3 separate regions of the Homo sapiens genome follow, and regions 1 and 2 are each linked to region 3. Evidence: fine-mapped expression QTL. A gene starts in region 3. Each other region holds a variant in brackets. All regions are shown on one strand. Distances are from middle to middle.

What was found. PIP is the estimated chance that this variant, and not a neighbour inherited with it, causes the effect.
Region 1: its variant is fine-mapped to the expression of MEG3 in whole blood (INTERVAL, PIP 0.90).
Region 2: its variant is fine-mapped to the expression of MEG3 in blood mononuclear cells (TOPMed, PIP 0.92).

The regions. Positions count from the first base shown.
Region 1 is chr14:100,679,461-100,690,195 of GRCh38, forward strand. It overlaps LOC105370668 (a long non-coding RNA gene), which reads left to right and starts at 7,474. Exons shown (of 3, transcript XR_001750887.2): 1 at 7,474-7,897; 2 at 8,179-8,280; 3 at 8,371-8,456. It overlaps LOC124903385 (a long non-coding RNA gene), which reads left to right and starts at 9,871. Exons shown (of 3, transcript XR_007064339.1): 1 at 9,871-9,956. RefSeq lists enhancers at 1-469, 1,064-1,657, 9,478-10,293. The variant C/G (reference allele first, on the strand shown) is at 5,215.
Region 2 is chr14:100,704,410-100,715,144 of GRCh38, forward strand. LOC105370669 (a long non-coding RNA gene) reads left to right here and starts at 4,658. Exons shown (of 2, transcript XR_944211.1): 1 at 4,658-4,728; 2 at 5,145-5,342. RefSeq lists enhancers at 9,395-9,906, 9,907-10,418. The variant G/C (reference allele first, on the strand shown) is at 5,589.
Region 3 is chr14:100,819,916-100,830,650 of GRCh38, forward strand. MEG3 (maternally expressed 3) reads left to right here and starts at 6,203. Exons shown (of 10, transcript NR_190993.1): 1 at 6,203-6,302; 2 at 8,793-8,901; 3 at 9,119-9,834. RefSeq lists an enhancer at 3,803-4,503.

The DNA of each region.
Region 1 (10,735 bases), 140 kb before region 3:
AGGGTGGTGTTGGTCCTTCTGGTGGTAATTGTGAATGAAGCAGGGGGACGACACATCCAGCTTGGGGAAACTGAGGCCCAGAGGGACAAGGCCTGGATCAAAGTTACACAGTTCATGGATGGCAGGGCTCAGGGAAGAGCCCTCCTGACCTCTGCCAGCAGCCTGCCCAGCCAGCACACGGTTCCTCCATCTAGGCCGAAAGATGGGCCTATGTCCATTCTCCCTCCTCCCTCCACCCTTCCCGAGGCCCTCTCAACCCTCAGCCAAGCCAGGGAAGGTAGAACGTGAGCGCCCCGTGGGTCCTCAGATGGTCTTGATTACCGACAGAAGGAGAAAGGCCTTTGCCCTGTGTCCTGCTAACTGTTCCAGGGAATCCAGTGCATCCAGAGGCCTGGGGGCCAAGGTCTCACACAGCTGACCGCGTCCAGCACGTTCTGCAGACTCCGGGTGTTTCCAGAGATCGCTGGGCCTGCACATTCCTTCCTGCTGAGGGAACTCCCCAGCAAGGCAGAGGAGGCGGCCAGCTCCAGGAGGGCCTTGTGGTGGGAAAGGAAAGAGCTTGTGTCCACAGGCGGCTAATGTGCACCAGGTGCTGACGAGTGTCTCTCTTGTGACATGAGAAAGTGGGCGCCACACTCTTCTTCTCTTGCAGAGGAGAATGTGACTTAGAGAGGAGATGATAATGGTGGTCCCCTTCCAGGCTGTTGACAACTGACTTGGTTCATGTGAGAGCTCAGCTCAGAGCCTGGGACCAGTGGGTGTTTACCAGGAATTCTACTGCTGTTGTCCCAAGCCACATGGCTAGGTGGCTGCAGACCAGGGATTTGAACCCGTGTCCAGGAGACAACCCAGGGTGGCTCCTTTGTGGTAAAGGCCACGCTGTTTGGGGATGGTCCTCCCTTCCTGCACTGCCACCAGCCTGATCTCCAACCCAGAGGCTCCCAAGTGGTCACAACCCTGGTTCGAGTGTCCTGAGGACCGGTGGGTGCGAGGCGACAGCCCCTCCCTCCAGTACCGGCTGAGAACGCCTGGCTGTGGGAAGCCGAGGATGACCACCCCTGAACTGGGGTCCCCTTCCCTCCGCCTCCCCCCATTGTCACAGGCCACGTGGGTGTCCTGCGGGCAGGGTTCTGCCACCACCACAGAGGGCTGGCCGGCAGCCCGCAAGTTTCCACCAACTAATAAGTTTTACAAACCTCCAGCCTCATAAAAAAGCTCACAGTGGCCTGAACAACCATGGCCAAGAGTCTTGTGGGAAAGCGGATGGCCTTGAGGCCAGGCAAAGGCGATCTCGGCCAGAGGCCACTTCCTGCCTCTACTCAGACCTTTCCTAAGGCTTCAGACGTGACCATGCCCCTGTGGCCCCCTGGATAAAGACTATGCTCCTCCCTCGAGGGACCGGAAGAGGCCCTCAGCCCCAGCTACCGTGCCCCAGCAGCCCCACGCCCTCCTGCTGCCAGTGAGCTGTCTCTGCACTCCTGCTGCTGAGCGCAGGCCTTTGCGTGGGCCTGAATGCCCTTCCTGTCCCACCATTAGGGACACAGAGATAACTGACACTTCTGTATCCCAGAGGGCCCCCGGGGGACACGGCATGTGATTGGACAGTGATATCACAGGCTCTGACTGGGACCTGAGAGGGAGCAACACGGAGTCCGCATCTGGCTTCTCGTCCGAACGTGGGCCAGGGTAGCAAGGGGGCACCCCGGCTGCAGGAAACAGCAGGCTCCAGGCAGAAGGGTCCATGATGCAAACACGTCCCTGAGCAGCCCGCTGGGGACCGGAGGGGCTGATGTGGAGAGTGCCTGGAGCAGAAGCGAGGGGGCATGGGTGGGGCAGTGGGCTGAAGGAGTGCGTGGGTTGTGGCAGAATTTTCAAGAAGGTGGGAGATGGGGGACACACACGTGGAGGCTGATGCTTTCAGGAGAGAGGGACGTTGGGTTTGTGATTCTGGGGTGGGCCTCTGGGTATGAGCTGGGATTTGGGCACGTAAGAGCCTTGGGCACATGGGGTCTTCAGTGGTAGGAGGATGAGGCCACCAGTAGCATGGCAGGAGGGGAGGGCATGGAGCCAGGACTGGCCCTCAGAGTGGCAGCTTTAGGAGGCAAGGGCAAGAGCCAGGCCTTTGGAGAAAGTCTGGGAAGGGGTCTTCAAAGAGGAGGGGGACTCGGGTCCCAAAGCCACAGGAAGAGGTGTTTCAGCAGGAGGGACCAGTCGGCTGCCTGGGGTGGCCACGACAGGAGCCGGGAGGGGTGTCATCGGCCTGGTAACCTGGGTCCTTGGCATCCTTGGGAGTGGGGGTAGAAGCTGGCGGGGGGCAGTGGCACTGGGTGTGAGCAGCTATGAGAAGATGGGGAGGACAGGCTGAGCTGAGGGGAGGGTGGGCGGGGATCTGCCTCCTGCCCCGTAACCCTGATGCTCACAGGGGCACTCCAAGGAGAGAAGGTTCACTCCGTCCCCTGCCAGGGATTGTCTGTGGGGGGCTCCGGGGGCTCTGCAGGACTTTGATGGACTCCTGGGGAGGCAGCTGTGGTTGTGGAGGGGACGCTGCTGCCCCCCGGAGCTGAGTTCATTCCCCATACCCTGCTCATCATGGTGCAAGCTGTCTGGGCCTCGGCTTGCTCATCTGCACTGTGAAAGCGCCAATGGGAACGTGCCGTGTGCTCCGGGTTGTGGAGAGGACTGGACGCCAAAGGTCCCCACAGGCAGGTTTTTCTGTCCCCGAAGTAGGTGGCCAGAGTCTCATAGCTTCTGATGGAGACTTAGCACTCAGTCTGGACGAGCCTTGGGGAGTTGAAGTATGGGCCTGCCCCTTGGCAGACTCAGAGCTGGCCCTTCTGTAAGTGTGCATTCAATCACATGAAAAGTGCCCAGGTCTGAGGAATCATCTGTTACCCAAGTCTCTTGGCAGCTGTCTCTGCTCAACGTGCTGGAGGGGCTGGGAACCACAGAGGGGCTGGCAGGGGCGGGCCAGCCTCCAGTAGGACCACGGCTTTGGTTTTCCATCTGTAAGTGGGGCTGTGGCTACGTGAAAGTGAGCCTGGAGGCCCGCGCCCCCTGAATCCTGATGAAAGGGTCTTCTGCTGCCTGACTATGGGAAGGAGGGGCCATATGGACCTGGAGCATGTTGACGCTGCCAGGGTCTTCCAACTGGACACAGAGGCCAGTCTCTCCCTTTGCAAGGGTCTTCCTTCAGCTGGCCTCAAAGAGAGGCTTCCAGGACCAGAGGGAAGGAACAGGGAGAGCCAGAGCCCACCTCCTCCTAACTCTGCCCACATTGCCCATGGCAGCTCCGTTTCTCCTCTGGAAGCCTCTCCCAAGGGTTGAAGAGAAGCTGGACCCTCCCAACTCCACACACACTCTGAAGATATGCTTCCTATCTGTGCACACATGATCATAGCAGCATCACACACAGTAGCCAGAAGGTGGACACAGCTGAGTGGCCACTGAAGGGTGGATGGAGAAACAAAATGTGGTCAGTCCACACGATGGAATACTATTCAGCCCTGAAAAGGAAGGAAATGCTGGCCCAGGCTACAACATGGGTGAACTTGAGGACATTATGTTGGGTGAAATAAGCCTGTCACAAAAAGTTAAATATGATTCCCTTTATGTGAAGGAGTCAAAATCATAGAGACAGAAAGTAGGATGGAGGCTGCCAGGGCTGGGGGACAGGGAATAGGGAGTTAGTGTTTAATCTTTTGGGGTTTCAGTTTTGCAGGACGAAAGTTGTTCTGGAGACAGACAGTGGTGATGATTGCACACCAGTGGAAATGTACTTAATACCACTGAAATGTACACTTAAAAATGGTGAAGATGGTAAAGATTCTTTTACTACAATTAAAAAATCAAGATTTAGGCTGGGTGCGGTGGTTCACGCCTGTAATCCCAGCACTTTGGGAGGCCGAGGCGGGCGGATCACCTGAGGTCGGGAGTTCGAGACCAGCCTGACCAACATGGTGAAACCCCACCCCTGCTAAAAATACAAAATTAGCCGGGCGTGGTGGTACATGCCTGTAATCCCAGCTACTCAGGAGGCTGAGGCAGAAGAATCGCTTGAACCCGGGAGGTGGAGGTTGCAGTGAGCCAAGATCGTGCCATTGCACTCCAACCTGGGCAACAAGAGTGAAACTCCATCTCAAGAAAAAAATAAAATCAAGATTTGTATTTCATTAAGAGTTCATTAAATCAGTATGGTTCACAATAACCGTCCTTTGCTGTCAAGCTATTACGAAAGATCTCATCAGAAGTCTGCATGTCACTCTTCTTCTCTTCCTTCCTTCCTCACCCTCACGCTTGTTGGTCAGAGCCCTCTCTTAAAGGAAGAAAGCCCAGGGCTCCTGGCCTCCAGCCCAGAGCTCCAGGGAAGGGGCCGGCCATGTCTGAGCTAGGGAAGAGGCTGCAGAAGATAAAGGTTCTGGGGACATGCTCCAAGTTAGAAAGCCAGGTAAGGCTCCCTGACGTCCGCCCAGCAGGACAAAAGCAGACAATTATGGGATGCACCAGAGTCGTGCAGCCCCTTTGGCCCCTGCAATATCAGACGCTTCAGAGACCTGACTGTCTTGCTGTTTGGCTGACGCCGGCCTTAGAAGAACAAGCAGGTCAGAGGATGGAATTAATTTCCTAAAATTGAATGTCATGTTGAAAAGTCATCTCAGGATTTCCTGCCAGAGGGAAGGAGAAATGGCCATTTGGTCTTTGCTCTCTCAATAGCCTGTTGTAGCCTGCCACTTACATCTTTAGTTTTGGGTTGAACCGCATGAAAGTGCCATGTGTTAGGGCAGGAATCATAGAAATAAGCACGTTTATGTAGCATAATTGAATAAAAATAACAGTGAAAAGGTGGTTCCAGAGATGAAGGGAAGAAACAAAACAGACCTCGGCTCTCTGTTTTCTGGGGAAGTACCGGTACTGAGATATCAGATCATTTTGCACGTAATGACACCCCAGTGCTGTGATGAAATTGTCACCAATGCATTAGAGGACTTGAAAATGATATAGCCTCTTTGGAAATGAATAGGCAAGCACGTAGGAAGAGTTATCAAAGGCCAGATGCCCCTTGTTAAGCAGTCCTCCTCCTCCTGGAGATATGCTTCTAAGAAAACCACCTCCAAAGAAGGGAAAAATCATTTTCCTGAAGGTGTTCCACGCGGTGTGAGTTTGACCCTGAAAATCGGAGGTGGCCTCTGCCCTGGGTAACACCAGGACAGCTAAACC[C/G]GTAATAGATGCCAGAGACGGGGCAACAGGAACCCCTCCATAGAGAAGGGAAAATCAGACCAGTATGGCGCCGAAGCCCCCTGGTGAAAATGCCACTCATGTTGACCCTGTCCCCAGAAGTTTCCTCTAGGGAATTTTACCTGGTTACTCTCACGGTAGCTAAAATCTGTCAGTTTCATCACTTGGAAGTGGAAGCTTCAGGGGTGAGACCTCTGTGTGTGTGTGTATTTGTGCATGCTTAAAAAACCTCCAACAGGCTGGGCGTGGTGGCTCACACCTGGAATCCCAGAACTTTGGGAGGCCGAGTCAGGATTGCTTGAGCCTGGGAGCTCAAGGTCAGTCTGGGCAACATAGTAAGAGACCATCACTAGCAAAAAAAAAAAAAAAAAAAAAAAAAAATTAGCTGGGCATGGTGGACCTGTAGTCCCAGCTACTCTGGAGGCTGAGGTGGGAGGATCAATTGAGCCCAGGAATTCAAGGTTTCAGTGAGCTATGATTGCACCACTGCACTCCAGCCTGTGTGGCAGAGAGAGACCCTGTTTGAAAAAAAAACAACAAACAAACTCAAAAACAATAAAACCCTCAAACACAGAGTCAGCTAATGAAACAAGACAGGGGAGCGGGCAGAGATCAAATCCGGCCGTGCCTCAGGCTGCCGCAACAGAACTGGGGGCGGCTGGGTGGGGCGTGGGGTCAGACGGGTGCTTCCCTACTTTTATCAGAATGGGCTTTAATGCTTAAGGCTCTCATCCTTTCTTTAAAGATAGAACAACAACAACAACAAGAAAGCTGGACCCAATCTGTGCTCAGACTTGCGGGGTTGGCTCACATTTCCTTCTCGGCCAGGTGTCCTCTGTTACTTTTTGCGCCCTCCCAGGACCTCGAGGGAACCAAACCCTGCTACCCCTCCACCTCAGCCCCCTCCACCTCAGCCCCCTCCACCGCAGCCCCCTCCACCACAGCCCCCTCCACCACAGCCCCCTCCACCTCAGCCCCCTCCACCTCAGTCCCCTCCACCGCAGCCCCCTCCACCGCAGCCCCCTCCACCTCAGCCCCCTCTCCACCACAGCCCCCTCTCCACCTCAGCCCCCTCCACCTCAGCCCCCTCCACCACAGCCCCCTCCACCTCAGCCCCCTCCACCTCAGCCCCCTCCACCTCAGCCCCCTCCACCTCAGCCTCCTCTCCACCTCAGCCCCCTCCACCGCAGCCCCCTCCACCGCAGCCCCCTCCACCTCAGCCCCCTCTCCACCTCAGCCCCCTCCACCTCAGCCCCCTCCACCTCAGCCCCCTCCACCTCAGCCCCCTCCACCTCAGCCCCCTCCACCTCAGCCTCCTCTCCACCTCAGCCCCCTCCACCGCAGCCCCCTCCACCGCAGCCCCCTCCACCTCAGCCCCCTCTCCACCTCAGCCCCCTCCACCGCAGCCCCCTCCACCTCAGCCCCCTCCACCTCAGCCCCCTCTCCACCTCAGCCCCCTCCACCTCAGCCCCTCCACCGCAGCCCCCTCCACCGCAGCCCCCTCCACCTCAGCCCCTCCACCGCAGCCCCCTCCACCGCAGCCCCCTCCACCTCAGCCCCCTCCACCACAGACCCCTCTCCACCTCAGCCCCCTCCACCTCAGCCCCCTCTCCACCTCAGCCCCCTCCACCTCAGCCCCTCCACCTCAGCCCCCTCCACCTCAGCCCCTCCACCTCAGCCCCCTCCACCTCAGCCCCCTCTCCACCACAGCCCCCTCTCCACCTCAGCCCCCTCCACCTCAGCCCCCTCCACCACAGCCCCCTCCACCTCAGCCCCCTCCACCTCAGCCCCCTCTCCACCTCAGCCCCCTCCACCTCAGCCCCCTCCACCTCAGCCCCTCCACCTCAGCCCCCTCCACCTCAGCCCCTCCACCTCAGCCCCCTCCACCTCAGCCTCCTCCACCTCAGCCCCCTCTCCACCACAGCCCCCTCTCCACCGCAGCCCCCCCTCCACCTCAGCCCCCTCCACCTCAGCCCCCTCCACCTCAGCCCCCTCCACCACAGCCCCCTCTCCACCGCAGCCCCCTCTCCACCGCAGCCCCCTCCACCTCAGCCCCCTCCACCTCAGCCTCCTCTCCACCTCAGCCTCTCCACCTCAGCCCCCTCCACCTCAGCCCCCTCTGCTGCCACAGTCCCTTCAGGGTCCCAGGCAGCTTCACCAGGAGTGGGTTGGGGGCTGGAGAGGCAGGAGGGGGAGGGGAAGAGGGGAATCCTCCCAGCAGGAAAGAGCCACTCAGCTGAAGGGGCCTGGGGGCTGCCCAGGGCTCACTCCCATCTGACCGCGCCCACCATCCCACTCTCTCTCCACCACCCTCCCCAGGGCTACAAACTCCTTGCACAGGGGAGGAGGGAGAGCCTCCAGAGGGAGCCCCTCTTCCTGGTCCCGGGATCCCAGGCCTCTTCCTCTCTCCCTGGTTGCCTAGGAGCGGTCATTGTTCTGAAGCCCCAGAGCAAAGGGGATCTCAAACAAATGCTCCATCCTGGGGCCTTCCTGCTGGATCTGACATTTGGGATGTTTTTAATTCCTGGAGAGACAGATTTGCCACAGGGGAGAAATGACCTCTCTGTGGGCCGCTCCTGGTTAGGCTGCCTAGGACGCAAGGGAGCGAGGCAGGAGAGACCATCTCTGTTTTACGGGGCTCTCCCGGTATCTTCAGAGAGTCCAGGTAAAGGCCTGCCTTGGTGCCAATGGCAGAAACCTTACTGGCCCAGACCAGGCCTGGGATTCCTGTGGTGCCCTCGGCTCGCTGCTAGCATGGTCTCAGAGGACTCATGTTGCCCCCATGATGGGAGCCCATGCAGAGTGGGTGGGTGGAGAGGCCAGGAGGCGGCAGGTGCAGATGCGTGTTTGAGGATTGCGTGCAGGGAGGGCGAGGCGGGGGCCCGTGGTCAGTTAGGATCTGTCCGTTGTCAAATGCAGGGAATGAAGTGGCTCTCTCTCTTTCAGGCCAGCGCCAGGCAGGTGGACAGTGTTTCCAGTGGCCTTCCTGTGGCCTCGACATGGTCAGCTCCCGGGCTGCCTCTGTGGCTAGCTCTGGGACCTTCCCAGGTGCCACATCCCTGGCTCCATGGGACCCTCTCCAGGCCTGGGGCCAGCAGGACCCCTGGAGATGTGCCCCTCTTTCTCTGGTTCACACAGCACCATCGACTTGGCCCCCAGCATGTCCTCAGCCACCGTCATCATCTCTCCATCCCTCAGCCACCGTCATCATCTCTCCATCCCTCAGCCACCGTCATCATCTCTCCACCCCTCAGCCACCGTCATCATCTCTCCATCCCTCAGCCACCGTCATCATCTCTCCATCCCTCAGCCAACGTCATCATCTCTCCATCCCTCAGCCACGATCCCAGTTGAGGTCACATCCTACCCACAGGGGCCCTACTGTGCCCCAGGTCCCTCGGCGACCAAGCTCCGGTCCTCATCTCACGTTCACTCTGAACCAAGGCAAGCTGTCTGGACTTCCACCCTGACCATGCCACTGCCCTGCTCACAGCTGGGGCCTGCCAGCCTCGGGATACAGTCCTTGGTCCCCCATTCCAGCCTCTCCACCAGGCCTGCCTCCCTCCAGTCATGTGGCAGCCGTGCATGTGGCCCCTCACTCCGGCCTTGGCATGCCTGTTCCCTGTGCTGGGATGGCCCCATCGTCCCCACCTCACCCTCTGCTTCCTGGCTACCTCCCTCCTCCTGAAGCTCCGCTTACTCCTCCTCTCCTCCAGGAAGCCCTCCCTCACTACCTCCCTCCCGGAACTTCTCCTCCACTTTGGGGCTAACTCTCCCTTCCTGGCCCCCCACCCCCAGCCCAGTCTAATTGGAGTGTGGCCGGAGCTTCAGTCAGGGCAGTGCAGGTTAGCAAATGGTTGTGGATGAGTGCCTGTGGGCATGTATGGGCTTCCAGTTGCCTCTGCAGGACTTGGGTGGGGGAGGAGGTACAGCCCCCCGGGTGCCCCCGTCCACTCCCCTTACCGTAACACCGACCTTCACCAGCCCTCCACTTCCTGGTGAAAAGCAGACCTGTGGCCTTGGGCGTCTGCAGCAAGGCCTCAGCTTGGGTCGCTTCTCTCCTGTCAGCGTGGGCCAGCGTGGGCTGCTGTGGCCCCGGCTGCTCCAGGTTGGGGGGATTAATTGGCCTGTTGCTGGAGGCAGGCAGAGGCTGGACGGCGGGTAGGCAGAGCAGGCGAGGGGGACCCAAGGCCTGAGCCCCTGTGTTTGCGGGGTGAGGGCAGTGTCCCTGGAGGGAGGGGGTGCTTCTGGCCCTAGGCGAGGGTCCCTGGTGAGCGCCTCTGCAGGGACCCATCCACAGGGCAGCCCACATTAGCATTCTCTGCACAAGAGTTTGCAAAGGAATGACTCACACTCTGGCTGACTAATTTGAAAGTAAGCTGCTTTTGCTGCAAGAAGGTTCAGTGAATCTTAAAAACTGCGTGATGGAGATTTTATTCCTTGTTCTAGACCTTTCCTTCTGCCAGGAAGGTGGCTCTGCCTCGGTTTACGCCTTTGGTTTGCTCACCTGGGGAAGTGGTTGGGGGATTGCGGGAAAACTGAGACTCCCAGGCTTGGCTTGCTTAGTGCTCACAGGTCGCATGCCCTCGGCAAATGACTGAACCTCACCGGACAGCAGGGCGCACCCACGGCACAACACACACATTTGGCGGAATGGGGACCCAAGCCCTGCTGAACCAGGATGAGGACCTCCTCCCACACGGGGTGGTGGGCTTCACAGAGAGGTACATGAGGGGAAGGATTATTTTCCCCTTTTACAGACAGGTAGCCCAACAGTGCAGAGAGGTTAAATCATCCATCTGAGGTCACACAACTGCTAGGTACAGAAGGTGGGATCACCCCACCGGGCTGGTCACTGCCCTCAGCCTTCCCAGCTTAGTTCCCCACCCTGAGTTAGAGCAGAGCCTCAAGCTTGAGGAGATGACTTCTTTTCTTTCTTTCCTTCCTTCCCTTCCCTTCCCCTCCCCTCCCCTCCCCTCCCCTCCCCTTTCATCCCCTCCCTTTCCTTCCTTCCTTCCTTCCTTCCTTCCTTCCTTCCTTCCTTCCTTCCTTCCTTCCTTCCTTTCTCTCTCTCTCTCTCTTTCTTTCTTTCTTTCTTTCTTTCTTTCTTTCTTTCTTTCTTTCTTTTTCTTTCTTTCTTTCCTTCCTTCCTTCTTTCTTTCTTTCCTTCTTTCCTTCTTTCCTTCTTTCTTTTTTTTGATGGAGTTTCGTTGTTGTTGCCCAGGCTGGAGCACAATGGGGCGATCTCGGCTCACCGCAACCTCCGCCTTCCGGGGTTCAACTGATTCTCCTGCCTTAGCCTCCTTAGTAGCTGCGATTAGAGGCATGCGCCACCATGCCCGGCTAATTTTATACTTTTAGTAGAGACGGGGTTTCTCCATGTTGGTTAGGCTGGTCTTGAACTCCCGACCTCAGGTGATCTGCCCAGCTTGGCCTCCCAAATTGCTGGGATTACAGACATGAGCCACCGCGCCCGGCCGAGGGGATGACTTTTATCTGTGTC
Region 2 (10,735 bases), 120 kb before region 3:
GTCCACAGCACAGTGCCTGGCGCAAGGTTCAGGTGTGCAATAAATGTTCACTGCTGCTGGTGGAGGTGGCAGCCACTGTCAACATCGAGGGTGTGAGTCTGGTGCTGGGTTGACAAAGGGCGGAAAGGATTCTGTGTGGCTCACCAAGAGGAGAAGTAGGACCCTCAACAGTTTTCCAGAGCCAGACCTCACCAGAGAGAAGGGACAGGATGTGGAGTGGGCACTGTGAATCCCAGTGGGGGCCCTGACATTGCGGCTCCTGTCCCATGTGGGTGCCCCCTCCAGTCACCCTCTTCTGATGGCATCTGGTGGGTATTGAGCCACCTGAGCTGGTCCAAGGGACAATGGGAGCAGGAGTGGCGAGCACATGTCCACCCTGGAGCCCAGATGTGAGACAGGTGGAGGGCAGGTGGTGCCAACTAGAGGCAGAGCCAGTCTTGGTCCAAGTGAGTGAATCCAACCCACGTGAGCACTGACCCGGCTGAGGAGCTAAAAATTCCAAAGTGGACTGGAGATGCAGAGGGCTGGCTGGGTGTGGTGATGGAGGTACTTGGTCTGGATGGATTTCAGGGGTCCGGGCCAATGTCCGTGGCAGGGCTTTCCTCACCACAGGGTGAAGCCACACGGTTGGGTCGAGTCTGTTTAAAAAGGCGAGGTGGGGACCTCAGGGAGCTGGAGGTACATAACAGTTTCCTGCCAGTCCCTGGCTCTCAGATGCCCACACAGTTCCTGGCACCTATACCAGGGTAGGGAAGGAGGAGGTTTTGAAATAGCATTCGCAGGGCTGATTGGGGTGTGGCTACCCTGGCCTTCTGGAATGCCCCCAGCTACTACAGAGTCTCTGGGAAACAGACTCAGTGACAGAATCTCTTTCTTCTTATACAAAATGGACCAGCTTGGACAACAAAGAGAGACCCCATCTCTACAAAAAACGAAAACCTTAGTGGGCGTGGTGGTGCTTGCCTGTGGTCCCAGCTCCTCCAGAGCCTGAGGCTTGGGGGTCACTCAAGCCCAGGAAGTTGAGGCTGCAGTGAGCCTTCGTCATGCCACTGCACTCCAGCCTAGGTGACAGAGCGAGACTGTTTTAAAACAAAGCCAAACCAAACAAAATGGGGACCAAGAGAGGACCTGGCACATGGCGGGCACCCAGTCCGAGCCGGATCCCTCCCTCCTTCCTGGGAAGTGAGGACAACCCACTGCTATGCCCGCTAATAGAGGGTTACGGGCATCGACTAGTGCAGAGGCTTTATTAGCGGTCAAGTGCTATTAATAAATAAATCCCTAAATCATTTTATAAGCTACAAGTGCTTGAAGAAAAATAAAGCGGGAATGGGGATAGGGATACAGGGATGGGCTGGCGGGAGGGGAGGGCAGTAGAAGACCTCGCTGAGAAGGTGAATTTGACCAAGACCTGAAGGAGGTGAAGGAGTGAGCCCCGGGCCACTGGAGAGGACTGAGCAGGCTGTGCACCGGGCTCGGGGCTGCAGCAAGGGGGCCAGAGGACTGAGCAGGCTGTGCACCGGGCTCGGGGCTGCAGCAAGGGGGCCAGAGGACTGAGCAGGCTGTGCACTGGGCTCGGGGCTGCAGCAAGGGGGCCAGAGGACTGAGCAGGCTGTACACCGGGCTCGGGGCTGCAGCAAGGGGGCCAGAGGACTGAGCAGGCTGTGCACCGGGCTCGGGCCAGCAGCAAGGGGGCTAGAGGACTGAGCAGGCTGTGCACCGGGCTCGGGGCTGCAGCAAGGGGGCCAGTGTGGCTACTAGGGAGGCACCAGAGAGTGAGCGACGAGAGAAGGGGCGTCAGGCAACAGCCAGGGGCTCGGGGGCAAGATAAGGAAGAGGGAGGCTCCATGGCAAAGGCCCCATGGTGAGGCGTGAGGTGGCCTGGCTTGGAAAGGCTTGCCCTGCACAGGAGAAGCAGGGCGGCCAGCTGCGAGATGGTCGCCACGATCCAGGCTAGAGCAGCTGTGGGCCTCGAGGGTGGTGGCATGGAGAGACAAAGTGGTGGGATTCCAAACACGTTTTGAAGATAAAATCAGCAAGTCCTGCGGGAGAAGGAGAGTGCTCCGGAGGCCTCCAGGGTTTCTGGCCTGAGCCACGGATGCACTGAGGGGGATGCTCTCCTCCTGGGCCTGTGAAGGTGATGGGGCTTGGGGGAGCAGGGTGTGGAGACACAGTGTCAGTAGGGACCGGGGCCCAGGTGACCTCCAGCTTTGGGGGCAACAGCAGCTCTCACGGCTGCAGTCGGCGTGTCCCCCCACCTCCAAACCACGAGGCACTGTCAGGCTTGGGGAAGGAGAGCTGCTTCCGGGCCAGAAGTAAAAGAGGGCAGGGTCGACTTTCGGGCACACAGAGGGCGGCTGGGTCCCGGGGAGCACTTAAGAAATGTTGGCGAATGAAGCTTGAGACAGTTTCCTGTCTCCATAGATGCGTGTGTGCACACACTGATACACACACGGACACACACTCTCTCACACCCTCACACACTGACACACACTCACACCCTCACACACACGCACTCTCACACCCTCACACACTCACTGACACACACACCGACACACCTACACTCTCACACCCTCACACACTCACTGACACACACACTGACACACCTACACTCTCACACCCTCACACACTGACACACACATTCACACCCTCACACACACAATGACACACACCCTCATACAGTCAGTCACTGTCACACATAACCTCAGACACAGTCACTGACACACACACTCACACCCTCATGTACACACTCGCACAATGACATACACTCACACTCATACACACAGTCACTGACACACGCACACTCTCATACACACACTGACACACTGACACACTGACACACACCCTCATACACACTCACTGACACACACACACAGACACTGACTCTTATACACTCACATCTGGATCATAAATATACCCATATTCATGAGTTTATTGGCAACTTGTGTTTTTCTCTTTATACTTGTCTCTAAGTTTTCTAAAATAAATACATATTACTTATGTTTAACAAACAAAATCCCTTTTTTCTGTTGTAAGATTTCTATTATCTTAGAAACAGAGATTCTACTTTTAAAAAACTGTTGAAGGGCCAGGTGCAGTGGCTCACGCCTGTAGTCCCAGCACTTTGGGAGGCCGAGGCGGGCGGATCACAAGGTCAGGAGATCGAGACCATCCTGGCTAACACAGTGAAACCCAGTCTCTACTAAAAATACAAAAAATTAGCCAGGCGTGGTGGTGGGCGCCTGTAGTCCTAGCTACTCAGGAGGCTGAGGCAGGAGGATGGTATGAACCCGGGAGGCGGAGCTTGCAGTGAGCCGAGATTGTGCCGCTGCACTCTAGCATGGGCGACACAGCGAGACGCCGTCTCAAAAAAAAACTGTTGAAAAGCGATTAACCTGAAATAAGGGAAAATCGTTAGACAACAATGACACCATGACAGACCTGCTTCTCCTAATCAAAAGTAAAATTTTAAATCCTAAATATCCCAAGTAAAAGATTAGCAGCCAGCTGTGGTACCAACCACTCCACGAACTGTTATGCAGCCATTTATACTTTGTCTCTTCTGAATTTAGATAAACATAGGGAATGTCTCCTGTATAAGAACCAACAAGAAACAAGATCACAGAGACAGCATGATCTCTGGCATGTAAAACAAAACTGAAGGGAAATGAACAGAAAAAAGACTGGAAGGAAATACCTCCATGTCAATGTTTCCTATGCAGAGGAACGATGGATGATTTATTATTTGGATTTTTCAGCCTCCCCTACATTTTCTTTAAATAACATCTATTGTTTTCAGAAAGAAAAACAACTCCATTTACCTTTCATTTTTAAAAATTCTACCCGGCCTTAAAATCCCACTTGAAAGACCAGCAGCTTGGCGGGGTGTCTTCACCCCCTGCTCAGGGGCACCCCTTAGCCAGCAGGCGTTGCTCACCGCCCTCAAGGGGCTTTGGGTTCAGATGGGCAGCCAGGGGAAGCGAATGCGATACCACCCTGGGCTTCCTCTGACGGCCATGGACCTGCTGGGCATAGACAGGAGGTGGGAGGGGCAGAGTTGGCCTCACCTGGCCCTCCAGGTGAGGGCTGGCGTCAGTTACCGGCCAAGGCCTCTGGGTGGCTCCTGCTGCCCTTGGCTGGGACACCACCCCTCTCCTGCCCCACACCCTCCCTGCTCCTTCTCAAATGTCCGCCTTCCTGGCAGCTGAGGGCCAGCGAGCAACTGGGCCAGGAGGGCCTGGAAACGCCTCTTCTCCTCATTCTACTCAAGATGGCTCTGGGGACAGAAAAGGACCCCTCTGTGCCCCAAATGTTGGGAACAAGGGCAGTGCTGGTAATAGGCTCACATTTGCACAAGGCGGGTCAAAGTTCCGGGCCGTGTGTCACCTGGGGGCTGGGCCAAAGGGGGCGCATCTTGCTGTGACATGGTGAAGGTGGGCAGGGTAGACCCGACGCTGAGGTAGGGGAGCGGGGCAGCGGGCTCCTCCTTCCTCACGTCCTATACTGTGCGGCGGCCCCTGACTTGGCCCCCTCTCCCTGGCTCTGTACTCCCAAACGTCACGTTGCGCCCCTCCCGTGCGCCCTCCAGCCAGGGTGGCCCGGCCTTGGCCGTTATGACGCCAGGGGAGCCGTTTGGCCGGCTCGGCCTCGGGTGATGGGAAGTTTCACTGCCCGGCCCTGTGGCCTGCGTTCTGTCTAACGCAGCTGTCTGTGCAGCTCCCGGGAGGGGTGAGAACAGCCAGCCACCTGGCTGAACTTGCTGGGAACCGACGTCAGGAGCAGGAGCTAGGCTGCAGTGGGCCTCACGGGGGCCTGGACGGGGAGAGCGGCTCCGTGGGCTCTGGGGCCTTCCCTCTCCACGCAATTGCGATCCCAGTGATGGGTGGGACAGAGATCCCCGTTGTCCCTGTCACCGCTCCCGCCTCCACTTGCCGGGCCTGAGGACAATTGAGGGGCTCTGCGAGCCCTGGGCGCCCCCCCAGCCCAACCCTCCTCCCTGGGGCCCCGCCGGCCCCCAGGCCTCCCCTGGCCTGGCCTTCCTTGCTGAGGGGGCGGGCCAGCGGGAGGAAGTCATCCGCTGTATTGTCGTCTTAATGCCTGTGCGATGAGGTGTGAAATTCTATGTTCCCAAAATTTGTTATCAGCCTCGCTCCTGTCCTCCGGAGCGGGCTGTGCGGAGGCAGCCGGGAGAACAGTCGGCTCCGAGGACAAGAGTGATGGGAGCGCCCCGGCCCCGCGGAATCCATCATTCCGGAGGGAACCTTCGGCAGGCTTCATTAGGCTCGAAACGATCATGAATATCCTCCCCTCACCTGTTCTCATTAATAATGGCTCCCCTCTTATCTTTTTTTTGCCACACGTATCATTCTTTTAAGAAACATACACAACCCAGGGAGAAAGCCCGGCGCCTGCCCGGGAGCCCAGCCGCAGCCTCTGCGTCCCGCCCCTCCTCCCCAACGCGCGCCGGCAGGGGGCGCGGCGGGCTCGCCACGGAGAGCGGGAGCTGGGGCCGCGCAGGGCGGGAGTCCTGCCCCTGGGTGGGGGGGACATGGGGCTGGGACTGCGGGCCGGGTAGACCACCAGGTGGG[G/C]AAAGTCAAGCCTTCTGGAACCTTCCAGCCCCGCGAAGCCTCCCCGATCCCCTCTGGCTGTGCTTTCCCCTGAGACAAATGCTGGCCTTCTCTAACCGTTTGCCTGTTTCGGTTCGTTTTATAATTTATTTTATTTTATTTTAATTAATTAATTTATTTATTTTTGAGATGGAGTCTCTCTCTTTCACCCAGGTTGGAGTGCAGTGGTGCAATCTTAACTCACTGCAACCTCCGCCTCCCGGGTTCAAGCGATTCTCCTGCCTCAATATCCCAAGTAGCTGGGATTACAGGTGCCGGCCACCATGTGTGGATAATTTTTGGGTTTTTAGTAGAGACGGGGTTTCCTCATGTTGGCCAGGCTGGTCTCAAACTCCTGACCTCAGGGGATCCACCTGCCTCGGCCTCCCAAAGTGCTGGGATTACATGCGTGAACCGCTGCGCCCCCGCCAGTTTCTTTTTATGTTAAAAGTGGTTTCAATTATAAAATAGATGGCCCTCTCTTTTGAAGTGCAAAGCAGGTAGTCCTCCCGTTGGGGTTCCCCAGCCACTCCCAAAGCCCAGCGCCAGTCAGTTTCTCCTGTGATCCCCGGAAGCGTCTAGGCATGTGCAAACAGATCAATAGGAAAGGGGATCTTGTATATATTCTTTTTCACTTTACATACATGAGTTCGTTTTACACACACTGTTCTGCAACTCCTTTTTGTTAACCTCACGATGTAGGAGATATTCCAAGCGTAATTTTCCCTGTTTTATACAAGAGCCTAGGGGAGTGAGGCTTTGGGGAGCTTCTCCTCCTGGCTTCTCCTCATGGCTTTCTTCCTCCTGCCCCTCCTCCACGTCCCCAGCCCCCCATTTCTGCCTTCCTTGCTGCTCCACTTGGCCTAGCCATGACCTCTGTGTGGTCGTCACTGTCTTGTGTTCTTGCTTCTGTCGTGGCCGCCAGAGTGACCGCACTGCAGCTTTTTAAAGCTCTGACCTTGTCTTTCGTCTTCTCAGAGCCTGTCTGAGGCTCCCCAAAGACATTGCCCAGCGGCCTGGCATTCAGGACCCCAGCTGGGCAGCCCTGCCGACCTTCGGCCTCCTCAGGGACAGCTGCTCCCCTCACTCTGCCGGGCCTTGGACTCGTCTCCCAGAATAGCCAGGCACACTGGCGCCCTAACCTTCCCTGGCTCAAGCTTGTCCTACTGCCGGGAAGGCCTCCCCCTCCCCTGCATTTGGCAAACTCATGTGTACCCTTCAAGGCCCATCCCCAAGGTCACCTCCACTGGGAAGCCTTCCAAGGGCTCTCAGGCCCTGCCTGGTTCGCCTTAGCACTCCTGCAGCTCGGCTGGAAGGAGAGGCCCCCTGGGACCTGCCTGGGCTCTGTCCGGCTCTGGGCAGCTGTGCTTGGACCTGGGGCTTTTGGTCAGATGTGCTGTCCCGTCCTTCCTCCTGTGCCTGCTAGCTTCCACCGGGCACTTACTAGGGCCTGGTGGACCTAGGAAGCTGGTCCTATATAATTCCCATGCTACAGGCACCACTCCGAAGCTCAGAGAGGCGTAGGCAGTGTGCCCTGGGCCCACAGGCCATCTGTCCGTCTGCTCTTCCACATTAGCCTCCTTTCACTAAATCCCAGCTTCCTCCAGCAGCAAGAAGCCTGCTCGCTCCCCAGGGGCAGTACTGAAGGAAGGCATGCCTGCCTGAAATCTGTCCTCAAGGTCCCAGGCCGGCTGGGGCCCCAGGGAGAAGTCTCGGGTTTGGTAATCGTGTTCCGGCCTTGAGCTGCCGCTCTTCCTGTGAGCGTGCCAAGGGGCCTCTGCCTTCCTGAGGAGAAAGAGGTGGCCTGGACCTCTCGGTACCCAGACGGCCCTGGAGGACAGGCTTGTGTTTTGACAAGTGACAGGGCTGAGGAAGCTCCTTGGGTAGAGGGAACAATAGGAACTGAGGCCTCGAGGCCTAGAGGGGAGTGGGAAATTGGGAAGTGATCAGCCCCAGAGGCAGGAGGGCTCTGAGACTGAGAGAGCACATGGAGAGGGGACGGAGGTCCTCACTGCAGGACGCTTGGCTTGGGCAGACAGGGAGTGGGCATATGTGACCCAGGTGTTAGAACTGGGTTGTGGGAGGGGAGCAGGCACCAGGATCCAGGCCGCCTTTAGGTTTGTGATAATCACCTCCAGAGCCAGAGGGGGAAACCGAGGCCTGGGCGGGAGGGAGGTGCAGTGATGTCCCCAGCAGTGGGCCGGAGCATCTGGGTGTCCCACAGGCCTGCTCCCCGCTGGCCCATGGGTTCCCGGTGGGCTGTCCCCAGACTTCGTCCCCTGCCTCAGGGCCACAGAGGCAATGTGCCGGTAGGCAACAGCATCTGGGCCCTCCAGGGCCCTCGTGTCACTTGTTCCGCAGTCGTGGTCTCCAGACTTGCTAATTAGTTGGTAACTACACACCCCGAAAAATGTGCCTGTCTCGATGACACGGTCCGCCCTCCAGCACTCCCTGTTGCCTCTTTCCCGGCAAAGCTGGGGGAAGAAAAAACCAGCGGCCTCCCTTTTCTGGAGGAAGAGTCACCTGCAGGTGTTTTTACAAAGTCGGGGCCAGAGACCATAGGAATAAATGCCATGATTCATGTTTGCAAACCCCTCCTGCCAGCTTCTGTCTTGACAAGCCAGGAGGGCTGGGGAGGAGGCAGGCAGAGGTGGAACCTGGGAATGCCGCCAAGGGCTTGCTTCGAGGCAGTGTTCCCTATCACAGGTAGAACCGTGCAGGCCTCAGGACAATTGGGTGGAGGGGGAGGGGCTCCGGATAGCCACAGGTGGTCCAACTGGCCACTCATCGCCTGGCCACCCCCAAGTAGGTGGTCTGGGTCCCCAGGGCCACCCAGCAGGGAGGCACCTCCACCCTTGAGAGAGGCTTGATGACCTTAAAGGCCAGCGGGAACGTTCTTAATTCTTGTAATAACCACGACTGGGACAAATGGTGATAACCGAGGTGTCGCTGCTCTGCTCCCAGGCTCTCCTTCCAGCCCCAGCTCACCACGGCCATGCCAGAGCTCTGAGGGGGTTCTTCTCAGGGCAAGAGTCCTTAACCCCATCTTACAAATGTGCTCACCGCAGTCGGGAGAAGTTCAAGACACCCCTTCAATCAAAGGCACCAGCCAGGTGGCGTGGGCAGGACTGGGTACTGGGTTTCCCACCGCTGACTTGGACTGAGGCTTGGCATGGGGGTCGGTGGGACAGGGAGTAGGTATTTTTAGGGTTGGGGGATCTCTGAGGTCACATGTAAAGGATAATCATCTCCTCTGGTTTCTGGCAAAACCCAACCCTGTCCAAGGAGGTCTGCCCACCTCCCCTCCTGTGTGTGTGTGTGTGTGTGTGTGTGTGTGTGTGTGGAGTCTCTCTGATATTTATTAAGCATCTACTGCTTGCCCTGTGGAATACTCTGCAGCTCCTCCCCCACAGACTCCTGCTGAGGAGAGGAGCACTCATCCTCGGGAGCACCCAGCCGCCTCCAGGGACCCTCCCAGGGCAGAGGCAGGAGGAACAGTGCAGGTCCAGGAGGGGCTGGATGGAGCCTGGGGGGTTGCGGAGAAGTGAGGGCAGAAGGCAGGCCTGGGGCATGATTTTCTCACGACCTTCTCCCGGATGAGGAGCCGATGGAGAGGTTCATGCTGGGGCTCCGAAGGGGGACCAAGATCATGGAGTAAAGACAGCACTGATGGGGAGACGGAGGGAGATGCAGAGGGAGAGCCTGCTGACCCCTCCCAGGGCCCCGGATGAATGGCCGCAGTGCCCTCGGTACAGGAGCAGGAGAGAGAGAAAGTGGAGCTGGGCATGTGGAAGCAGGAGAGAGAGGACGGAGCAAGGGACAGGTGGAGATCCAGGCTGAGCAGCTGTCCCTGGGGGTGGGCAGGAAAGGACCCTGGCCTGCTCCCAGGCACCACAAGGAGCACAGTGCTGCACATCTGTGAGGGGGACTTCCTGGAGGAGGTGGCAGGGTCTGGGATGGGGCCAGGCTCCGGGGAGGTGCGTGTGGGGTCCCTGCTGCAGCTCCTCCATGCTGCATCATGGATTCCCTCGTTTCCAGGTCTGGATGCGTTGCTGCGCTTGGCTTGCAGCGTGGAGCCTGCTAGTGACCCCCGGGGGAAGGGCCCTCCCTCGGGATGGAGCCGGCTTCCCTCTGCAACCACAGAGTGGTGTTTTAATTAGTCAAGTCTTCAAATCATTGTTTACTGCTCTCCACTCATGAAGGGTTTATTAAAAGCTGGGCCAAGTTAAAAATACTGGCAACAGGGACATGCAGGCCATCGGAGCCGCCGAAACAGGCGCCCTGAACCACGAGGAAGCCGTGGTGGCTCCTCCCCAGGGAATCCCTGCCCACGTCCTGTCGGTGGCCCAGCTGGCAGACAACCCGTCAGCCATGTGGAGGGAGACAGGGTGGCCCCTTGCAGCTGTGCCAGCACTGCTCAGCCTGTGCCGAGCACCAGCGCGTGACCAGGTCTCACACCCCTGGGTATTGAAAAGGCCTGGCAGGGTGGAGGTGGGGCCCCTCCTCACTCCACTCCACCCCTCCAGGAGCTTCCAGTCCCTGGGAAGCGTGTGTGGTTAGCCACACCCAATCACCCAGCCACCAGCCTCAGAAGCCCTTGGGGCCTGACAGCAGCAAGGATCGTGGTGGACGGCTCTGCCTGGCAGGGGTGTTCAGGGAAGCCCTCCAGGAGGAGGTGGCACTCGGCATGGGGTGGGCTCGCCATTGGTGGACAGGGGAGATGGCATTTCAGGTGAGTCACAGAAAGGTCGCCTAGGCCTTGGAGGCAGGGAGGTGCCGTCCTTGTCCTTCATGCTACCGTTGTGAGGAGGGTGGTGGAGTCGGGGAGCCCTGTGGGAGGAGCCTTCGGTACCCTGCCTGGAAATGCGCCCTGCAGACCTGCTGTGCCCGGATCTCCAAGAAGACTCTAGAGTCAACAGGTCCATAGGGAAGGGTGGGCCACAGAGCCCACAGCCACCAGCTGCCACTGCCTTTCTCAGAAGGAGCCAGGGGGAGGGCTGCTGTGACTCTTGTGGGGGCCCTCAATGTTTGAACAGTGGCAAAAACTGAACTGCGACAAGCATTAGGGCTTCCAAAGATCAGCTATCATGCACAGCTCTGGGTAAGAGTCCTTTGCTGGGCCTCAGTTT
Region 3 (10,735 bases):
CCCTCTGTTTGATTCTCATCTCCTTTCAGCGTCAGACAGCGGTGGCAGGCAGCGGTGGCAGGCAGCGGTGGCAGGCAGCGGTAGTAGACTGATGCGGTAGGCAGTGGTGGCAGGCAGCGGTGATAGGCAGCGGTGGCATTGGTGGCAGGCAGTGGTAGGCAGCAGTGGTGGCAGCAGTGGAGGGCAGCAGTGGCAGGCAGCGGTGGCAGGCAGCGGTGGCAGCAGTGGTGGCAGGCAGCGGTGATAGGCAGCGGTGGCAGTGGTGGCAGGCAGTGGTAGGCAGCGGTGGCAGGCAGCAGTGGAGGGCAGCGGTGGTAGGCAGTGGTGCCAGGCAGCGGTGGAAGGCAGCAGTGGTAGGCAGTGGTGGTAGGCAGCGGTGCCAGGCAGCAGTGGTAGGCAGCGGTGGCAGGCAGTGGTGGTAGGCAGCAGTGGCAGTGGTGGCAGCAGTGGCAGTGGTGGCAGCAGTGGTGGTAGGCAGTGGTGGTAGGCAGCGGTGGCAGGCAGCGGTGGCAGTGGTGGTAGACTGCCGTGGTAGGTGGAACTCATCATCCTATCTCCCAGGGATTGTCACTTTCCCCCGAGCCCTCATGAGCTTCTGAGCAGCTCTACGAAGCAAGAGTCACATGGATTTGGGCTTTTTGAAGAAAGTTCAAGGAGATTCCTACCTTTGCTGGTACCCTCCTCTGGGCGTGGGCTGCGACATGGACATCAGCAAACTTAAGCTCAACGAGGGAAGATTGTGTGCCCTCTGGAACCTCTGACCGCTGCCTCTATGTGCACGGGCCCCTAATCACAGTGCGTCTCCTACGCACCCTTGGCTCCCCCAGGAGCTGGTGGCTTCTGGGTTAGCTCTGAGACAGAGGTATCACCAGGCTTGGCTCAGGGAGGCCAACTGTGTGCTCTGGAACCATCCAGACCCTCAATGTTTAAATTGAAAGTGTGCCCAGCCTCGGCCCCCTTCCCTTTGACATTAAGACTTAAGAAGTTTCTAGTCCTTGTTGAAACCTAGTACAAATGCCTCCTCTAGGAGCCTCTTGGGTGGGGTGGGAGTTTTTCAACTGTCAGCAATCTTTTAGTTAAAAAAAAAGAAAAAAAGAGCAAACTTTCCAGTCCTGTTCTACCTGGAACACAGTTTCTCCTCTGGGGCCCCTCCCCAGGCCTCTGCAGTTCTCTGTCAACACAGCAAAAGCCACCCCCTCCCTAGCCGCAGGCAGTTGAATGGAGCAGTTCTTTGCTCCACCGAAGGAAATATTTCCATGGAGTGGGGCCAAGAAAACCCCTTGCTTGAATCTGGGGCTGGCCCACACCCAAAGCCAGGGGGCCCCGGGTGGGGGTGGGGTGGGCAATGTGGCTGTCTTTTCCTAGTGTCAGGATGTGACTTCTAAAATCCAACCCATGGCAGTGGTCTGCTTCACCAAGACCCCGTTCTTGGCCTGCTTGGTCTTCTCGGAAATGGATTTCTCTAGGTCCCCCCAGTAGGAATGAAATCATTGAAGTGCACTTTTTTTGCTTTTACCAGCTTGGAATTTGTTCACCTCTGTGGCAGGTTCAGGAGAGTCCTTCCAAAGATTGGGCGCAGCTAGGTGACTGCCACTGGCACCCACCTCTGTGCCCACCCCACAGCTATCACTCATGCATGAATGCCTCTGTCCAGGAATGGGGACTTATGCTATGCAGGACATGAATCCTGGGTCTCTTGATTTTTATTTACTTAACAGGAAAAGATTTTTAAATTGAGGTCAATAAAGAAGAGGCTAAAATGGTCACTTTTCTTGTACCGTTACATTAAAACGAATTTTTTTTTTTAACAGTTGGGGTCTTATTATGTCACCCAGGCTGGCCTTGAACTCCTAGGCTCAAGTGATCCTCCCCGCTTCAGCCTTCTGAGTAGCTACGACTATAGGCATGTGCCACTGTGCCTGGCTTTGGACTGCAGCATTAAAACACACAAACACACACACACTATAAGAGGAATACATGCCAGTAAAGGAATTCATAAAAGTAGAAAGGAAGAAGAAAATTCACTCAGAATCTATCCATCCAGCACAACTAATGGTACCATTTGGGGGCATTACCCTCCAGCTCTTTTTCATTGGCACTAGTTATTATAAAAAGTAGTCCCAAAGAGCAATGTCCCCTGCCTGTCCACATACCACGCTCCTCCAGAGGCTGATGAGGAAAAGGGCAACTCTGTGGTTGAACATTTACTCTTGGGTTACTGTTAGTCAACGGGGAATGGCTGGAAGTCTAGCTAACTCAAATATACAGATGCGCTGCCTTGAAACCCAGCAGTCTACCTGGAATTAAACTTCATCCTTGGCCGTCTGTGAAAGGCGTTGAACTTTATTTGTCTTTTAGTATCTACAATTTGGCAAACTCTTCCATGCAAGGTTGGGGCTGTGCCCAGAACTCTGGTTTTAAGGGGAGCAGAGTGTTCCCGGCACTGGGAGCTGGGGTCGGTGTGTTTTCTAGAAGAGCTGCTGTCAATTTCAAGATCCCAGAAGATAGGCCTGGTGTGTTTGATCATTTCCTCCAAATCCTTGACTACTTGATGTCAAGCCTCACCTCTTATGGGAGGCAGACATTGTATTTGACAATGACAGGCTTCCCCTTGTCCCACGAGAAGGAAAAACTCAGCCCCATGGAAGACCGCCCATGCGCTCAACTGCTTCTCTGACTTGAGCTGAGGTCTATGGCAGAATGGGAGGGGGTTCAGTGATGTTCAGAGGCTTGAAGGGCCAGAGGCTGGCACTAGAGCTGGGGATTGGGACTGCAGTGGCAGCTTATATAGGAAGAAGTCAAAGCAGCCTCCCTATCCCGGCAGCCCCCTGGGGGGAGTGCAGAAGAGGAACTCAAGAGATCTCTGGTGCATGCTAAATTTCAAGGGTACGGGGAAAACTGGGACGTCGGCTTAGAGGGGTAGGCACTTGGGGTTTGCTGTTTGTAAAAGTTCAGAGTATGCTTTTTGAGAAGAGAGTATATTTGCCCATGCCTGGGAGATGGGTATAGGAGGACCTTGTCTTCATTTCCTGGCTGGCTCTTAGGAGGTTTGTCCCCTTGCCCATAAGTATGTACATGTGGATAGGAGGCTGCTCACATGGCTTTTGAGGGTTCTCAAGTATGAATTAAAAAAAGAAGAAAAATGTGTGCTTTGAGTTAGATCTGAGAAAAAAAAAAAAAAGGCAGCAAGCTAAGCCATGCGTCTGGGACACTGGCTCGCCTCCAGGATTTCAGGAGAGTTGGGTTTCAGCATGCACAGAGAGAAAGTGCTCCATTTCTCAAACCTGGATTTCCTTGTCTGTTTTCCCCTATAGATACAAATCTGAGCCCTTGAATGGCCTTTTTGAGGGAGGAAGGCATGTATAGCATTGCTCAGATTGAGAAATAGTTCAGATCCAAATATTACTATAGGTTTGGCTCCTTCAAGAATTTCTTCCATTGCTTTGGACCAATAAATATTTAAAAAGTTAGGTTCTGAGCTCCAGAAAAGCCAACAAAAACATTTAAACATATGGATTTTTTTTTTAAATTGTGGTTAAACCATGTTCAGTGGAGATTAGTTTGCAGCAGTCTTTTCTTTCTCTCTTTGCCTCGCATTCCTGCTCCCCCCCCTCATCATTTTCTTTCTTTCTTTTAGGAAGCCAGAAGGGTAAACATGTTGCCATGGAGTTCTGTTTAAAATAAAATACAATGGAAAGAAAAGCAGCATGATGAAGTAACCACATGGACTGCAGGATACACCTGATACTAATTACTGTCATGCAGAATGTTCTGGAAGACATTTGACTCGCCTGATGTATACATTCAAATCAAGCAAAGTAGGACTGGAAGGCTCCTTAGGGACCATCTTGTCCAAGTCTTTCCTTTTTCCAGATGAGGAAGTAGGGGCCCACAGAGAGGGAGGGCCTGGACCTCAGCCTCCCAGCGCGGAGGGAGCAGAGCCGGGATTCAAACCCGTGGTGCTTTGTAGGAAACCCGTAATTTCCACGGTCTTTTTCCTTGGGCTGTCAGTAAGGCCCTGAAATAGGAGAGTGGGGTTTACTGTGAACCTCGAAGGAGCAGGCTCAAGAGCCAGGGGGCCCAGAATAGGGCAGAGGCTGGCTTCTCACTGGGAGGCTCAACTTCCCGCAGGGGCGCCAGGCCCTGACAGGAGAGACTGGACATTAGGTGTCTGGAAGTTTCTCCTTCTAGGGGCTCCAGGAGCATCCCACCTGAGGCCTGGGGCTCCCACCGGAACGTCAACTCATGCCCTTGTGGGGCTGCAGGGCTGACGCGGGCTGGCACTGTGTCTACGACAGCCTCCCGGGCCCCCGGGTGCGTGGCTGCGGATGCTCTCTGGCGGCCACCACAGTTCCCACGCGCGGCGGGTGAATGCGAGCCCCTTGTCAATGCGTGCCCCTCGCCTCTGCCCCCGAGAGGCTAGCAACCGGGCCTGCCGGCGTCTGATTGGCCGTGGGGGCCTGACGACAGGGGCTCCTGGTTGCTGATTGGCCCCGGCCAGCTCTGGCTGTTTCCTAGCTATTAATACTGTGGCTAATAAACGTTCTCCTGTTGACGCGGGTGCTCGGAGCCATGATTTTTTGAAGCGTTCTTGACGTCTGTGGCTGGTGCGGGCGTTTCTGCTGTGCAAGGCCTGCTTCCGGGGCTCTAGTCCCTGGGGCTCCTGGCAAGCTCCACAGGCTGTAAAGGGGGTGTTTTCTTTCTCCTTCGTGTTACCTGACATATTAAAGCAGCGCCCCATGAGGACCCCAACGTCCCACGTCTCTATCTCCCCAACAGTGCGCCTGTTTATGAAAAAACGAGCCCCCCACACGCCGTCCCAAGGCTCGGCGCCTCTAGTGACCTGACGGTCAATGTTCACCTCCCTAGTCATTAGCTGTGGACGTAGAAATAGCCTTTCTCCCTTCTTTTCAGCCCTGGAATCTCCCGTCTGCTTTACAGTCACCTTGTGGGATCGTTGGGCATGGGGGGCTCCCTCTGACGCCGCTTAAACCCCCCAAAGAAGTGCGGGGGAGCGATTCTGACTTGATGCCCTCGGCGGGGCCTCTCTGCTGTCCTCTTTGGGGCCCCTTGCTCATCCTCACCTGCTTTCTGTCACCGAGCACTCCATCCTTGTCCTCCTGGCTGCCACCCACCTGTCACCCTAAGATAGATCCTCGGTCCCTTTCAACAGCATTTTGACCTTTGCGAGAGGACATTTGATTGACGGCCCTGCACGCTCTGCCACTCAGAGCCGGGCAGAGCTGCCGAGGGCTCCCACCTGTTAGGGATTAACTCCCATGTGCCAGCTCCGGAGCCGAGGCCGCGGCAGGGCTCGGCGCAACATGTGTCGCTGCCTGTTTTTCGGGGCGCTGGGGCTCTTTCAAAGGGCATGTGTGTGGGGATCACCCCAACTTTGAGGGGTAGCTCAGGCATCTCCACATGGGACACAGTCCGCCCTCTAAAAGTACTTTCCTTAGAGGGCACGGCTCCTGTCTGGATTCTTATTACAACCCTGGTGTGTGTGGTGGGGGGTACCCCTGGTTAAGGTGGAGGAAGCGGACCCAGTGGAAGAGGAAGGGGCATAGCGGGTTCCGCGAACATGAGTTGTAAGCGGCAGAGCCCGGGACTCCACAGCCAGGGTTTTCTGACTCGGAGACGCGGAGCTCTGTCTCCCATGTCAAAGAGAACCAGTCAGAAACGCACGGGTGGGCTGGGAGGGGGTGACAGCCTCTGGCTTACATCTGGGAACCAGTTATGTCGCCCGGGCATTTTATTTTCCTGAACAATAAGAGAAAGCATGATTTTCTTTCGCTAAGCCCGCATCCTCCGATGGATGTTCCGAAACCGCCAGGTGTGGGATCTGCGCCCCGACAGCCCCACCTTGGCCATCGGCCGCCTGAGGACGGCCAGCCATCGGGGCGATTCCCCCCACACATTGTGCCTGAATTCACCCTGCCTGGCGAGCCGGGCTCACGCAGGGAAAAAGCACCCGCGACCACAGGGTGTTGGTCATGGCGGCCAGGGGCACTGCGGCAGAATTTTTTCCTCCCTTCTTTGCTGCAATCTGGGTGCGGCTAGAGCAATTTGTCATAGAATCTGGGGGGCTCATTTTTCCGGCCAATCACTTTTAGAGAAATGAGCGCATTGCAGCAGAATGCGCTGACGTCAGAGACCACCCCTTCTGCGCCTCCATATAAACCCCACCCAGCCAGCCCCTAGCGCAGACGGCGGAGAGCAGAGAGGGAGCGCGCCTTGGCTCGCTGGCCTTGGCGGCGGCTCCTCAGGAGAGCTGGGGCGCCCACGAGAGGATCCCTCACCCGGTGAGTGGTTGGCCATCCTTGCCGCAAAGGATGTGCAAAAGGAAGACGGCATCCGCTTCTGGGATGGGCTCTGTCCTCCTGGACATGCCGAGAGCCTGCCTGATCCTGGGTCCTGCTGCTGGAGGCGGCCACTTCGCCTGGTCCCCGAGCGTCCGCAACAAAATTTGTCAGAAAGAAAATCTTGAGGCACATTTCCCTGGGGGGAAGTCAGGGCTCCTCTCTGGAGGGTCCAGTCCTTAAGGGTGGGCTGGGTGGTAGGGACTTCAGTTCAGAGGAGCGGGAGGAATCAGATGGAACTCCTCTTGGATTCGGGTATACGGCAGTCACTGGGGGGCGAACCCCGGATTTCCTGTATTAGAAGCCGCCTCTAGAATCGCGTTAATAGTGGGAGATATGGCGGCGATGCCTTCTGCGTGCCCCATGAATTAGGGGGGGAAGCACCCGAATAGAAGGGTCTCCCGGGCATATTTGCCTCGCCAGCTGTTGGCCAGGTTTTTGGTGGATCGTGGGCGGGAGGAGTGGAGGTTCCTCTTCGCGAGGTTTTCCGAATCCAAATACACAGGTTTAGTGCAGTGTGGACCCCAGGCAAAATGTGGAGTAAAATTTCTACCCGATATCATCTGGTTCTGCCCTGATCAGCCACTTTCACAGTGGAGAGAGATGGCGCCCAAGTGCAAACCTGCCAGTAGCCCCCTAGGATCAGTCCTTGCCGAAGGGGGGTCGTGGGATTGGGGGCACTGGGAGAATAGATGCAGGGGGTGGGTTGGGGAGGAGAGAAGGCCGTGTCCTTGGGTCTGGGAAGAGGGAGGAGAGAAATGCAGAAAAGGGGGTGTGTTGCTGGGGTCTGGACGCTGGGAGCTGGGGATGGGGTGCCGCGGGGGTCTTCAGAGCGTTGCGTGGTGGTCGCTCGAAAATCCTGACATGTTGCAGTCTTGGACTTTTGGTCAAATCGCCTTTTGCCATTTCCTTTGTCAGAGTCAAGCCCCCCCAGGCCGCCCCCTCCCACCCTGGGCCGGCGGGCCTGGTGGGGGCGCAGGCGGGTGGCTACGTGGCAGGTTTCTGGAAGGTTTCCTGGCTGGCCGCGAGAGGGCGCTGGCGGCACTGCGGAATTTTGGGGGGCGGGGTGGGGAGGGGAGGTGGCCTTTGTTCTCCTGATGGAGGGGGTCGGGCGCGGGATCTACTGGAGGATCCTGGATTCGTTTACCCAAGAGGGAACAGTTTTGAGACCCCCCGGATTCACTGCGGAGTGGCCGCAGAGGCCGGGGTCGGCCTTTGCGCCGTGGCTTCGGGTGTTGTGGAGGCGCACAGAGGCACGTTAGTTGATTTCCAGTGGTTTTTGGTTTCGGGGGTCTTAGGAAGGTGTGGCTCATTTGAGCAGGATGGAGAGAGAGGCTGTGACAAGGTCAGTGAGGGGCCATCGTGCGGGGGCTAGAAATTGTTGTTGTGGCGAAGGAGGGAGGCACGACTTTGGAGGCGTGATGTTGATGCCTGGGGGCGAAGGCGGGGAGCGGCGTGGTGGCCCCCTTTGCGTTACTTTCCAGCGATGTCACAGGTTCTGTCTCTCGTTCCGAGACCACCCACATGCGTGACAGCGGTGCCTGGAGGACTGGGTCTTTCTGACTTTAGTGAACGTGTGTTTAATTGGATTGACGAAGGTGGGAGTCGGGATTTCTGCTTTTCCCTGTAGCAGGCGGAGCGGCGCTCCAGAGGGGCCTGGCGCAGGTCCGCTGGGTGGCCCACCTTCCTCTGGGGCTGGGGCCCGGTGGCTGGGGGCGCAGGAGGCGCCTGGTGCGGGCGGGAGGCGCTGCGCCGCAGCCACAGGTGGGCTCTGGCTGGTGGTGGCTGGAGAGGCGTCCAGGGGGCGTAGCGACCTGGCGCGGTGGCCTGGGGTGGGCTGTGGAGCCCTTCCTAGCCTGAGACCTGTTGGGCACCCCCTGTCCATCCAGGCCCGCCGGGCGCGGGCCGGGGCGCCGCAGGTGGCTGCTGCACTCCTGGGTTACGGGTGCGGGCCGCGCGCCCCCTAGCGGTGTGTGCCAGCCCCGCTACCTTGGGTTTTGAGTTGCGCACACGCACACAGCTAACACTTGTGACCTGTCAGTCAAATCATCCTTACCCCCTCCCACTCCTCTCCTCCACCTCCCATTTCTCCTCTCCCTCCACCCTTTCTCATTTCCTCGTCCCTCCTCCCCCTCCTATTTTTCTTCTCCCTCCTCCCTCTTTCCTCTTCCCTCCTCCCTCTTCCCCCCTCATTTTCCTCATCTCTCTTTTCCCCTCCCCTTCTCTCCTCCCCTCTCCCTGCCCCCCTCCTTCCTCCCTCCATACCCCTCCCTCTTCCCTCCCAGCCCCTCCCTACTGCCTTCCTCAGTCCTCCCCTTTGCCACTCCTCCCTGCCTTTCCCTCTGCCTGCCCCCTTTTGCTCTCTGCTGTTCCGGTGCTGGCCGTTAGAGGTCACGAAGATGGTTTCTAACCTGCCCCCCTCCCATGCCATAGGGTCTCTCCTCAGGGATGACATCATCCGTCCACCTCCTTGTCTTCAAGGACCACCTCCTCTCCATGCTGAGCTGCTGCCAAGGGGCCTGCTGCCCATCTACACCTCACGGTACTTCAACCCTCCTGCTATCATTTCATAACCAACGTGGCGGGCAGAATCTCCCAACCCCACCACCATCCTTGCACCACCCCCAGACCCACTAGCAATTAAAAGACAATTTTAAATTTTAACTAATCAGCTTTAATTGTAATTAATGAACTTAAACTGTAATTATGATCTAGGCTTGGGCTTTTAAGCAGGTTCTCTAACCTTTGATCAATTGCAGAGGGCACTAGGAGCACGGTTTCCTGGATCCCACCAACATACAAAGCAGCCACTCACTGACCCCCAGGACCAGGATGGCAAAGGATGAAGAGGACCGGAACTGACCAGCCAGCTGTCCCTCTTACCTAAAGACTTAAACCAATGCCCTAGTGAGGGGGCATTGGGCATTAAGCCCTGACCTTTGCTATGCTCATACTTTGACTCTATGAGTACTTTCCTATAAGTCTTTGCTTGTGTTCACCTGCTAGCAAACTGGAGTGTTTCCCTCCCCAAGGGGGTGTCAGTCTTTGTCGACTGACTCTGTCATCACCCTTATGATGTCCTGAATGGAAGGATCCCTTTGGGAAATTCTCAGGAGGGGGACCTGGGCCAAGGGCTTGGCCAGCATCCTGCTGGCAACTCCAAGGCCCTGGGTGGGCTTCTGGAATGAGCATGCTACTGAATCACCAAAGGCACGCCCGACCTCTCTGAAGATCTTCCTATCCTTTTCTGGGGGAATGGGGTCGATGAGAGCAACCTCCTAGGGTTGTTGTGAGAATTAAATGAGATAAAAGAGGCCTCAGGCAGGATCTGGCATAGAGGAGGTGATCAGCAAATGTTTGTTGAAAAGGTTTGACAGGTCAGTCCCTTCCCACCCCTCTTGCTTGTCTTACTTGTCTTATTTATTCTCCAACAGCACTCCAGGCAGCCCTTGTCCACGGGCTCTCCTTGCATCAGGTAGGGGCTTTGCAGAGACCATCGACGGGCTGACTTGAGTAAGAACACGAATTATGCATGTGGCCATTTCCAGAGCACTTTCTATGTGATATGAACATGTGATTTTTATGTAATATGTGTATGTAAACGAGGCAGCCTCATTTCCAGGTGAGGATGCATTTGGTAGTGTTGATTTTTGTAATTTAAAGAAGCTGAAAGGGAGAGAGGACCCGTGAGGACTGAACTCTCTGTCCCATGGGGTAGGGCTTACATTTACATTAAAGAAACAGAAACTTGCTGGGAGGTGTAAGTATTTGGTCACATTGCTGGCAACAGAAGGGGTTGGAGTTGGACCCAGGGTGCCACGCTAGCTGCCCTCACCCCTTCTTCCCCTCTGGCCCAGAGTTATACTAAGAGTCCTTTTATTTCAAACCAAATGTTTGACAATGGGACAGTCTGTTTGAAATCCCAGCTGCCTGGGGTGGTCTTGGGGGTCTGGGTGGCCCCAGTGCTGGTACCATGTGCTGGCTTCACCTTTTAATAACAGTGTGACCTTAAACAAGTCGCTTAACTACTCTAAGTTTCAGTTTCTTTCATGGTCTAAATGGAGATTAAAACACACACACACACACACACACACACACACACACACACACCCCCTCGTGTATCTACCCCACAGGGCGCTTTTGAAGACCAAATGCTGTAACTACTATGAAAGTGCTTTGTAAATTGCTGTGGAAAGTGTGAGCTACTCAAGCACCCGAGGCTGTCCCTCCTTGCTCACATGTCCAGCCCAATTCTCCCTTAGTGAGAACAGCACTCAGTAGGTGCTGTGTGTGTTTGTGTTCAATTAAGAAATTCCAGAATAAATAAAAATGAATTAATTCAACAAACATTTTCTGGGGCACCGACAATCTGCCCA